2 linked regions of the Homo sapiens genome follow. The protein of the gene in region 1 purifies or fractionates together with the protein of each later gene. This does not show direct contact. Each region holds a gene or a part of one and is shown on either strand. Other genes may lie near its edges.

Region 1 (4,342 bases):
CTGAAACACTGAGCTCCACTTCCCCGCACGGGCCCCCACAGCTGGCCGAGGTCGCCTGCAGGGCGGTGAGCCCCCAGAGACTTCGAGCAGCCGGTGCCAGGTGCTCGACCCGGGAGGCTCCTAGGAGAGCCAGCTCAGACAGATCCCTGGGCTCACCCCCACACACTGTGAACACCCTGTGTGCACCCACCTCCCATCACACTGATGTACACATACCCGAACATGCCCACACTGTCACACTGTTGTTAATAACAGGATACACTCATGACCTCCATTCTTGCCAAGCACTGCCTTAAGCACATTACAAAGTTAGTTTAACTCAATCCTTCCAACAGCCCAATGAGCTCTGAGGTGGGTGCTATTATCCCATTTTCCAGATGGAGCAACTGAGACCCAGAGAGGTTAAATGATATGTGAGGGGTCACACATCTGTGGCTGGCAGAGCCAGGATGTGAACTCACGTTGCCCAGCTCCACAGCCCAGCCACGGCACCCCATTCGGAACACTCACTTCCCAGCACTGGGAGCTCCAGCCTGGACGCCCGCTCTGGGCCCTGCCTTCTTGCTCCATCTCAGCCTCGCCCTGGGCTACAGCTGCCTTTCTCCCTGCAGAGGAGAGGAGCAGGTGGAAGGGATCCAGGCCTGAGCCGTTCTCAGCGTTCCCCTAACCTCTCTGCCCACCCATCCCTGGGACGCTCTGGGAAATTGCCTGGTGCCAGCTCTGAGTAAAGTTGCAGAATGAGGTTTAATTGTGCCCCCAGGGCACGAGATCAAACAGCAAAAGAAAGGGGTGTGAGCTACCTGGCATCCCTGGAACTGTGCCGAGACTGAGGTGATGAAGGAGAAGGTGGCCTTGGTTTGTCCATCTGTAAAATGGGGAATGATGGTCCTCTCTTGATGCCCGCCTGTGAGCACCAGGCAGCTGGTGCCTGAGGAGCTCCTGGCGTGGGCGATCAGAGCTGCCAAAGATGGGCCCTGTCCTCCCGGCCAGCACGCGGCGTTTTCCTCTGTGGGAGGGTCGCTGTCCCGGTATTCCAGATAAGAGGGTGGACGCCAGAGAGGGGAAGGGGCAGGATCTCACAGCCGATGAGGGGTGAGCCCGGGCTGGACCCAGGCCTGCCTGAGGCCGCGCCTCTCCTGCGCGGTGCCCTGGCGAGGTTGGGCTGCTGGAGCGTTTCCTCCATGCCTCCCGCTGCGCCCCGGTTGTTTATCTGCGCCCGGGTCCCCAGGGTCGCTCGCGAGGCCCTGCAGCCGCCCTCGGATAAACAAGCCCATGCGGGGCCGTAATTAAGCTGGATGCGCTAACGAGGCGGTTCATTAACCAGCTGGGGTTTGCGCGCCAGGAGACTCGGGCCCGGGCGTCGGGCTCACCTCCCCGCGCGGCTGGAAGACCCAGACTCCAGCTACAGATCTGATCACCCTGTAACAAGGTGGCCTCGGTTTCCTCATCCGCAAAATGGGTCCTAGGGTTTGCCGCCGCCCCGTGATGGGGCGCCGCCTGGGGAGGTGGGCCTTGGGATCGCACCGACGCTGAGGCCCGGGCGGAGGCAGCGACTGGTCGCGGGCCCTGCAGCGCGCCCGGGACAGGGCTAGGGAGGGGCGTCGGGGAGGAAGCTTCCCCGTCACCCCGGCTCGGGCGGCGGTTCCTGTCCCGGCGGCCCCCGCCTCCCGGAGCCGCCCTGCCTGGGCCCTGGCGGCGCGGCCTGGAAGGGACAGGGTGGGCCGGGTGCGCCCCCTGCCGGCCTCCTTGCGCGACTTCCCGCCAGGCCCAGGGCCGTCCCGCTCTGCGCCTCGGTTTCCCCAGATGTGAAACATTCCGGGCGGGGGTGGGGGCAGCGGCCGCGGCCGGAGGCCACGGGGTTGGGGCGCGGCTCCGCATGGGTCCTCGCATCGCCGAGGGGCTTCTCGGGACTGAGGGTGCTCACCCCGGGGCCGCAGCCTTGCCAGGCCAGCTCAGTCGCGCCCGCCCTTCCCGCAGTGGACGGCTGCATTCATCGGGCCGCCGGCCCCCTGCTTACCGACGAGTGCCGGACCCTGCAGAGCTGTAAGACTGGCAAGGCCAAGATCACCGGCGGCTATCGGCTCCCGGCCAAGTGTGAGTCCCCGACGCGCCCCCAGCTGTGGGGCGCAGACAGGGCGCCCGTGTGTCACTGGGACATCAGGGGTGCGGCCCCCACAGGAGTGCTGGGGAACTCCTCAGGGGGCCCTTCTTAACCTTAAGGGCCAAGACCCGGCCCCCACCCCGCACACCCCAGGAAGCACATGGGGGAGACCGTGCGTGGAGGCTGAGGATGGAGCTGGGGGGCAACGCCTTCGCGCCCACACTCGCGCTCGGGTCTCAGCCGGGCCCATACAGATGTGGGGAGGGGGCGCGGGGCTCTGTGCGCGTGCGGATTCGGGCTCGAGGGGGCCCACAGGGGTGGGGGCCTTCGCGGAGGAGGCTCAGCGCTTGGGGGGAAAGGTGTTTCCTGCCCCCTTCTGCCCAGGCCGGCAGGGGGAAGCGAGGGAGCTGAGGACCGCGTAGACCCCCGCCGGTCTGACCCCGTCGCCCCCCGTAGACGTCATCCACACAGTGGGGCCCATCGCCTACGGGGAGCCCAGCGCCAGTCAGGCTGCCGAGCTCCGCAGCTGCTACCTGAGCAGTCTGGACCTGCTGCTGGAGCACCGGCTCCGCTCGGTGGTGAGGGACGGCCCGCGGGGGAGGGCGGGAGGCGGGGCGCAGTGACAATGTTCCAACCCCCTCTCACCCCTCCCCGCCCAGGCGTTCCCCTGCATCTCCACCGGCGTGTTTGGTGAGTCTGGAAGAAAGGCAAGGACCAGGAGTGGGCGGTGGACCCAGACGCCGGGAGGGGCCGGGGCGGACAGGGGAGTGGGCGGGGCCAGAGCCTAGGACTCACTCCCGCCCCACCCGCCTCAGGCTACCCCTGTGAGGCGGCCGCCGAGATCGTGCTGGCCACGCTGCGAGAGTGGCTGGAGCAGCACAAGGACAAGGTGAGTCCTGGGCCCGGGCGAGGGTGGGGTCCGCATCCCGGCCAGAGTGACCAGCCCCCATCATCGCCCAGGGAGTCAGGGTGCAGAGCGCAGGGCCAGGCCCGCCCCTTCCTTCCCTGTTTCTCCTGCGCAAGGGCGCCTGGCGGTGGCGAGATGGGGGTGATGGCACACAGCCGTGAGCCTCCGTGAAGGGCGCAGGGCCAGGCAGGTGAAAGCCTGCACCAGGGCAGGCAGTCACAGGATCCTGGGGCCAGGCGTGGCAGCTCGGCCCAGGCTGAGCAGCCCCTGGCGCAGGTGGACCGGCTGATCATCTGCGTGTTCCTCGAGAAGGACGAGGACATCTACCGGAGCCGGCTCCCCCACTACTTCCCCGTGGGTACGTGCCCCGCGCCGCCCCACGGCCCGCCCCTGCCCCGGTCCACCCTGGGGGCGGGCTCTCACTGTCCTCTGCCTTCCAGCCTGAGGCTCCCGCAGCCCACCCTGACCGGGACTGGTAAGCAGGGCCTCGCCCCGTGCGGCGGCCCCGGCCCTAGACTAACCCGCCCACTAACCCCCGCTCACCCCCAAGCAGGGCGGGAAACCACGGGGCAGCCTGGGAGGTCGGGGACGCCCATAGACACCTCTGACTCTGCTCTGCCCTCAGACCCGCCTTCGGGACCCCGCTCCCAGCTCTGAGAGGTCGCCAAAGCCTGCAGCCTGGCCTGGGCCTGGCCACCCCTTCTTTCCCTCCGCGCCCCGCCCCCGAGGAGCCTAATAAAGATCTCGTTGTGGCAGCTCCTACTGTCTGAGCTCTGACTGGGGGGAAGGAAGGCGGCCCAGGTGTTGGATGGAGCCCCTGGCCAGATGCTTTCACTGAAAGGGGCTGGCAAGAGCTCTCGGTGAGCCAGGCGGGCAGAGGCACAGGCGGACGGCAGAGGCGGCAGCAGCAGTTCACATTTATTGAGGGCCTGCCCCCAAGGAGCTCACAGCCTGGGGGCTGAGACCCCGAATGTGCAGGGGGCGGGGAAGAAAAGAGGTGAAGGCAAAAAGGCAGGCAATGCAGAGACACCGTGGCCCAAGCAGAGGGGGTGCAAGGCAGGCACAGGCAGGGGGCCTGGGGCGGATGGGGAGGTGGAGAACCGGCAGCCCTGCCTAGACCTGAGGACTGTAGACCCCACACGTTTGAAGGCTGCCCTCCCCCACCAGGATGGCACTGCCCGGGCACCCTGTGGGAGGCCCAGCTCCTCCACCTGCCCTGAGCCGGGTCCAGCCTCACAAAGGCCCCTCCACCCAGGACTCCCAACCATGCAGACTCCCGGTGGAGGGCAGGAAGCTGGGGTCTGGGGCCCAGCCGGGACGTGGAGGTGGGGCCT
Region 2 (7,286 bases), on another chromosome or scaffold:
TGGAGTGCAGTGGTGTGATCTCAGCTCACTGCATCCTCCACTTCCTAGGTTCAAGTAATTCTCTTGCCTCAGCCTCCCAAGTAGCTGTGATTACAGGTGCCCACCACCACGCCCAGCCTGGGCTAATTTTTATATTTTTAGTAGAGACGGGGCTTCACCATGTTGGCCAAGCTGGTCTCGAATGCCTGACCTCAAGTGATCTGCCCACCTTAGCCTCCCGAAATGCTGGGATTGCAGGCATGAGCCACCATGCGCAGCCTAACTCAGAATCTTTTGTATAGTTAAAAAAAAGGAAGCATGTTTTCATTTATAGTAAGGTTACACCCAGGTTACTGGTAGAACATAGGTTTGCAATTCTTTCCTTGGGAGATGAATGTTGATGTTGCTGTAGAATGATGACTTGAGCCATAAGAAAATTTAGAGCCTCATTTAGGATGTCAGGGCTGAACCTATACTAATGTTGATTTTTTCTCTCTCTCCCTTTCTAGGCTCATGTGTATTGTGAAGGAAATGATGTCTATGATGTCATGCTAAATCAGGTAAGAGGCAAGAAGAGGTGGCACCATTATATTTATGAGACCATCTTCTTGATAATTATTGATGATAGCATCACAGTGTTCAGATCTTTAAAGTCCCTTTTTTTTTTTTTTTTAAATTTTGTTTTTTCTTTTTGAAATGGAGTCTCACTTCATCTCTCAGGCTGGAATACAGTGGCACAATCTCGGCTTACTGTAACCTCTGCCTCCCAGGTTCAAGCAATTCTCCTGCCTCAGCCTCCCAAGTAGCTGGGGTTACAGGCGTGCACCACCACTCCCAGCTAATTTTTTGTATTTTTAGTAGAGACAAGGTTTCGCCACGTTAGCCAGGGTCTGGTCTCGAACTCGTGACTTCAAGTGATCCACCCACCTCAGCCTCCCAAAATGCTGGGATTACCAGGTGTAAGCCACCACGCCTTGCCTAAAGTCCTTCATATGTGTGTGTGTATATATATATATATATATATATATATATATATATATATATATTTTTTTTTTTTTTTTTTTTTTTTTTTTTTTTTTTGAGACAGAGTCTTGCTCTGTCACCCAGGCTGGAATGCAGTGGTGCAATCTCGGCTCACTGCAATCTCTGCCTCCTGGGTTCAAGCAATTCTCCAGCCTCAGCCTCCCAAGTAGCTGGGACTACAGGTGCAGTGTCTGGCTAATTTTTTGGTATTTTTAGTAGAGATGGGGTTTCACCATGTTGGCCAGGCTGGTCTTGAACCCCTGACCTCAGGTGATCCACCCACCTCACCCTCCCAAAGTGTTGGTATTACAGGCATGAGCCACTGCGCCCGGCAAGTCCTTTATATTAATATTAGCCATTAGTGGTTAAACACCTGAGTACTCAGCCCTAGCACACTCTTATCAGATAGCAGAGTCCTCTGTGAGAAGATTTTTTTTTGCAAATTTCATATCATTTATTGAAATTGTTAACTCTCTGTTCATATCCTTTTGCACATTTTTTTTTTTTTTTTAAACAGACAGGATCTTGTTCTGTCACCCAGGCTGGAGTGCAGTTTGTACAGTCATAGCCCACTGCAACCTTGAACTTCTGGGCTCCAGCAATCCTCCCACCTAAGCTTCCTGAGTAGCTCGGACTTCAGGCGCATGCCACAAAGCCTGACTAATTTTTAAATTTTTTATGGAGATGAGAATCTCGCTATGTTGGATAGGTGGTCTTGAATTCTTGGCCTCAAATGATCCTCCTGCCTTGTCCTCATGAGGCACTGGGATTACAGGGATGAGCCACTGGGACAAGCTGTTTTGCACATTTTCTAAAGTTATTGGTCCTTTTCTTACTGGTTTCGAGGAACTTTATATAATATGGAGAATAGCCTTTTGTCTGTAATACAAACCACTTGTGTTTTCCAGATTTGTCATTTACCTTTTGGTTTTCCTTATAGTACACTTTTTGCCCATATTGAAGTTTTAAATTTTTTCTGTAGTTAAATTTATTAATTTTTCCTTTTTAAAAAATTTTGGGTTTTTTTTTTTTTAATTTTAGAGACAGTGTCTTGCTATGTTGCTCAGGCTGGCCTTGAACTTGTGACCTCGTGTGATCCTCCAACCTCAGCCTCCCAAGTAGCTGGGACTACAGGCATCTGCCCCCAAGCTCAGCTTTCTTTTTAATCAACCTTTTTCTCTTGTTTACCTTTGTGGTTTTGAGTAGATAATACATTTGCCTCATTAATATATTTCCTGGATATGACTTCATGTTTGAATTTATTGATCCAACATATATAATTTTAACAACCAATTAGTATTTATTTCTTACTATTTCTTCTACTTAAAATACCACGAGCAGATAGAAAATACCTTAAGGTTAGCCAGGTGCAGTGGCTCACGCCTGTAATCCCAGCACTTTGGGAGGCTGAGGCGGGCGGATCACCTGAGGTCGGGAGTTCAAGACCAGCCTGACCAATGTGGAGAAATCCCATCTCTACTAAAAATACAAAATTAGCCAGGTGTGGTGGCATATGACTGTAATCCCAGCTACTCGGGAGGTTGAGGCACGAGAATTGCTTGAACCTGGGAGACGGAGTTTGTGGTGAGCCGAGATCGTACCATTGTACTCCAGCCCTGGGCAACAAGAGCAAAACTCCTTCTCAAAAAAAAAAAGAAAAGAAGGAAAATACCTTAAGGCAGCCAGGTGTGGTGGCTCATGCCTGTCATCCTAGCACTTTCGGAGGCCAAGGCTGGAGAATCACTTCAGGTGTGAGTTCAAGATCAGCCTGGGCAACATGGTGAAACCTTGTCTCTACAAAAAAATACAAAAACACCGGGCATGGGCCAGCTACTTTGGAGGCTGAGGTGGGAGGATTGCTTGAGCCTGGGAGGTTGAGGCTACAGTGAGCTGTGATTGAGCCATTGCACTCCAGCCTGGGTGACAGAGGGAGACCCTATCTCAAAAAAATAAAAAATAAAAACCATAAAAACATTTACAAAAAAATTTTTTAAAGGAAAAGAAAATATCAAGCTGGGCATGGTGGCTTATGCCTAAAATCCCAGCACTTTGGGAGGCCAAGGCGGGCAGATCACTTGAGTTAGGGGTTCAAGACCAGCCTTGCCAACATGTTGAAACTCCATGTCTACTAAAAATACAAAAAAAAATTAGTCTGGCATGGTGGCGTGTGCCTGTAATCCCAGCTACTAGGGAGGCTGAGGCACAAGAAATTGCTTGAACCTAGGACACAGAGGTGGCAATGAGCGGAGGTTGCACCACTGCACTCCAGCCTGGGCGACAGAGCAAGACTCTGTCTCAAAAAAAGAAAATATCTTAGGCTCCTTTTTGTTCTAACATCTAATGACCTTTTTTTTTTCACCAGTGGGCTAAGGTCGTACAATGGCTTTAGAATGTGAGCAAGCAGGAGATAGAGGTAGGAAGGGGCAGCATGCTTAACAAAAAAGAATGCCTCCATATCCAGGGCTCGGCCATACAACACCAGCTGCTATGCCTTATCATGGACTTCTCTCTCTTCACTCTGAGTGATTTACTTACAGATACCTCTTTTTAGATACTGGCCATATTCTCTCTCAGTATCTCCAAGTCAGGTCAGGTTAGGTATGGGACGGATGTGGCAGTGGTTTTGCGTATCCCTTGTCCCCTCCCATTATTGCCCTGCTCTCAGCTCATTGTCAAATTTCTGCAGCTGACAAACAAAAGCTGTGAGTAGAACTGTCAAGGAGTAAGTCATTTAACAGTTGAGCATAACAGGTTTAGACCTTTGGAGCATCCAAATTGTTTTCATTTGGGAAATAATTATTGGGAGTGGATTGGGAGCTGGAAAACACATATAGCTTAGAAAATATCTAAATAGGGAGCTGAGGCAGGAAAAAACTGGAGGAGCCATTCAATGTAGGATATTTGAGGTTGGATAGAGGGTTTTAGGAAGCTTCTAGGCTCCCACTTTAATTCCTAAGAATCCAAAGTTTAATGTATAAGCCCTATTTCTTCTTTATATCTTTAATCTTACAGGAATCTAATTTTCTTGCCTGATGCTATCCTTTTCCTTATGGAAATAACTGGCACCTGTGACGAAGGATGAGTCATTGGTTTATGTGATTTCCATTTGCAAAACTCCTTTTTTTTGTTTTTGTTTTCACTCAACATAGACCAATCTCCAGTTCAACAACAACAAGTACTATCTGATTCAGCTATTAGAAGATGATGCCCAGAGGAACTTCAGTGTTTGGATGAGATGGGGCCGAGGTAATGATTTTTATTGAGATTTTATGAGTTGGCATTCAGAAAGTCAGAAGCAGCTTAGTGGGTGGCCAAAGGATTCTCTGGGTTTAAATTGGGTCAGTAGAGGCTCTGAAGTCTGGGAGAGCCTTAGGAATCAAGTTGAGCATCTTGAAATTGGGGAATGGCAGGCATCCTCCTTAGAGTTCCCACTGGAAAAACTAAGAGCAGCCCATTGAGTCTGAAAACTCTTCTATAGTTGAACTGCTAGTAGTGCTCATAGACTATGGCAGTTAGCAAGTAACTTGTATCAACATGATTAGTTCCCTAAATCCTTTCACCTTTCCCTTCTCCCTTTCCTGCCTGTTTGTCAGATGTTAAGCAGAGAGATCTTGGAGAGCTGGCCTGTTACTCTTAGGGAACTATCTTATGTGTGGCATTTCCTTTGCAGTTGGGAAAATGGGACAGCACAGCCTGGTGGCTTGTTCAGGCAATCTCAACAAGGCCAAGGAAATCTTTCAGAAGAAGTGAGTGCTGAAAAGTGACTACAAAAAAATATACCCTCCTCTTCTTAGATGTATATTCTCTAAAAAATTTTTTTTTAGACAGTTTCACTCTTGTTGCCCAGGCTGGAGTGCAATGGCATGATCTGAGCTCACTGCAACCTCCACCTCCTGGGTTTAAGTGATTCTCCTGCCTCAGCCTCCCTAGTAGCTGGGATTACAGGCGCCCACCACCACGCCCAGCTAATTTTTGTATTTTTAATAGAGATGGGGTTTCGCCATGTTGGCCAGGCTGGTCTCGAACCCCTGACCTCAGGTGATCCGCCTGCCTCAGCCTCCCAAAGTGCGGGATTACAGGCGTGAGCCACCGTGCCCTGCCTTCTCTAAGAATTTTATAAGTGTGTGGCTTATAAAAAACTTTTCGTTTTATAGGTGTGATTTGGCCTAAATGTTAATGTCTTTTCACCCTGACATTCTGTGGTTGAAACACCAAACTGCATCCTTAGTGATTAAATCAAACTAATACCTTGAAAGTCACTAAAAACAGAAGAATCTAATATATTTAACACATGACTGACAAATTTAGGAAATTTGGGATAAGTGGAGACTATCCTGGGATAGATAATATTCAACTAGGGGCTGAGCACGGTGATGCCTGTAATCCCAGCACTTTGGGAGGTTGAGGCAGGAGGATTGCTTGAAGCTAGGAGTTTGAGACCAGCCTGGGCAACAAAGCGAGACCCCTGACTCTCCCCCAAAAAAAAGGAAAGAAAAAAAGAGAATATTCAGTTAGAATTTTTAAAACTTTATGATATAGATGAAGAACTTTCTGGAGAATTGGAGAACATGTTTCTTTCAGGGAAAGAGATTAGATGGATATCTTTTGTTTGAAATCTCAATGGCTTTTGTGGTGTTTGGGAAGGACAAGCATTGTTTTTCCCATTTTTTAAATTCCATTTGTCTCCAGAGCTTTTTTGTCCATTTAGTGTCCTCATTTAGAATTAGACTAATTTTGATTTATGGAAAGTTGATGTGTAAAGGAGCTCAGTGCTGGAAAATAAATTCTTTGGAGATTTTCTGTCTTGTAAGTCCATCTTCATAGTAGACCTTTATTTGTAAAGTTTTCTTACACCTTGGACTCTACAGATTCCTTGACAAAACGAAAAACAATTGGGAAGATCGAGAAAAGTTTGAGAAGGTGCCTGGAAAATATGATATGCTACAGATGGACTATGCCACCAATACTCAGGTAACTCTCACTATACTTTTCGAAAGAAACACATCTTCTTTTTTTATTTTATTTTTTAGAGGCAAAACTGTGCTCTGTTGCCCAGGCTGGGTGGCACAATCATGGCTCACTGCAGCCTCAAGATCCTCAGGCTCAAGTGATCCTCCCACCTCAGCCTCCTCAGTATCAGGAACTACAGGCACGTGCCACTCTGCCCAGCTGATTTTTTTTCTTTTTTTTTTGTAAAGATGAGGTTTCACTATGTTGCCCAGGCTGGTCTCGAATTCCTGGGCTCAAGCAGTCCTCTTGTCTTGGCCTCCCAAAGTCCTGAGATTACAAGCATGAGGCACCACACCTACTCCTGTTTCTTCTTACTCAGGGTAAAGCAGAATAGCTTAGATCATTCCTGGACTGGGACAGGCCAGGATATCTTGAATCCTTTCTACTTCTCACCTCAGGGGTGCTCTCACTGATCTTTGTAATCCCAAAGGGACAGTAAGAATGAGGATAGAATGTGCCTTTCTAGTCTTGGCTCTGTTATTTACTAAGGTTCTTTTTTTTTTTTTTGAGCTGGAGTTTGATTCTTGTTGCCCAGGTTGGAGTGCAATGGCTCAGTCTCAGCTCGCTGCAACCTCCAGCTCCCGGGTTCAAGCGATTCTTCTGCCTCAGCCTCTCAGGTAGCTGGGATTACAGGTGCCCGCCACTATGCCCAGCTAATTTTTTTTGTATTTTTAGTAGAGACAGGGTTTCATCATGTTGGCCAGTCTGGTCTTGAACTCGTGACCTTGGGTGATCTACCCGCCTCAGCTTCCCAAAGTGCTGGGATTACAGGCGTGAGCCATCACGCCCGGCCTACTAAGTTTCTTATAAAATCTTAGGCCCTATTTCCAGACGTTTATTGTTTTTTTCGTTTTTTTGTTTTTGTTTTTTTTTGATACGGAGTCTCGCTCTGTCGCCCAGGCTGGAGTGCAGTGGCGCGATCTCGGCTCACTGCACGCTCCGCCTCTGGGTTCACGCCATTCTCCTGCCTCAGCCTCCGGAGTAGCTGGGACTACAGGCGCCCGCCACCACGCCCGGCTAATTTTTTTTTGTATTTTTAGTAGAGACGGGGTTTCACCATGTTAGCCAGGATGGTCTCGATCTCCTGACATCATGATCCGCCCGTCTTGGCCTCCCAAAGTGCTGGGATTACAAGCGTGAGCCACTGCGGCTGGCACCAGAAGTTTATTGTTATGGACCAAGAGAGGAGTGATAAAAAATCAAACTGATTAAACAATTAACATTTAAATTTGTTTTCACTTCTGGATATATACCACCATAAAAAATTTAATTTA

Evidence for each region.
Region 2: the proteins of MACROD1 (region 1) and PARP2 purify together in Homo sapiens (affinity purification with mass spectrometry; 2 studies listed by BioGRID and IntAct, with this or other methods). This does not show direct contact.

The regions. Positions count from the first base shown.
Region 1 is NC_000011.10:63,997,979-64,002,320, reverse strand, and holds the end of MACROD1 (ADP-ribose glycohydrolase MACROD1), read left to right. Parts: intron 1-1,977; coding exon 1,978-2,094; intron 2,095-2,557; coding exon 2,558-2,679; intron 2,680-2,760; coding exon 2,761-2,791; intron 2,792-2,916; coding exon 2,917-2,990; intron 2,991-3,284; coding exon 3,285-3,366; intron 3,367-3,448; coding exon 3,449-3,453; 3' UTR 3,454-3,483; intron 3,484-3,633; coding exon of another isoform or gene 3,634-3,665; 3' UTR 3,666-3,763; downstream 3,764-4,342. UniProt on the Homo sapiens protein: Removes ADP-ribose from aspartate and glutamate residues in proteins bearing a single ADP-ribose moiety. Inactive towards proteins bearing poly-ADP-ribose.
Region 2 is NC_000014.9:20,346,375-20,353,660, forward strand, and holds part of PARP2 (poly [ADP-ribose] polymerase 2), read left to right. Parts: intron 1-488; coding exon 489-539; intron 540-4,151; coding exon 4,152-4,248; intron 4,249-4,672; coding exon 4,673-4,748; intron 4,749-5,870; coding exon 5,871-5,973; intron 5,974-7,286. UniProt on the Homo sapiens protein: Poly-ADP-ribosyltransferase that mediates poly-ADP-ribosylation of proteins and plays a key role in DNA repair.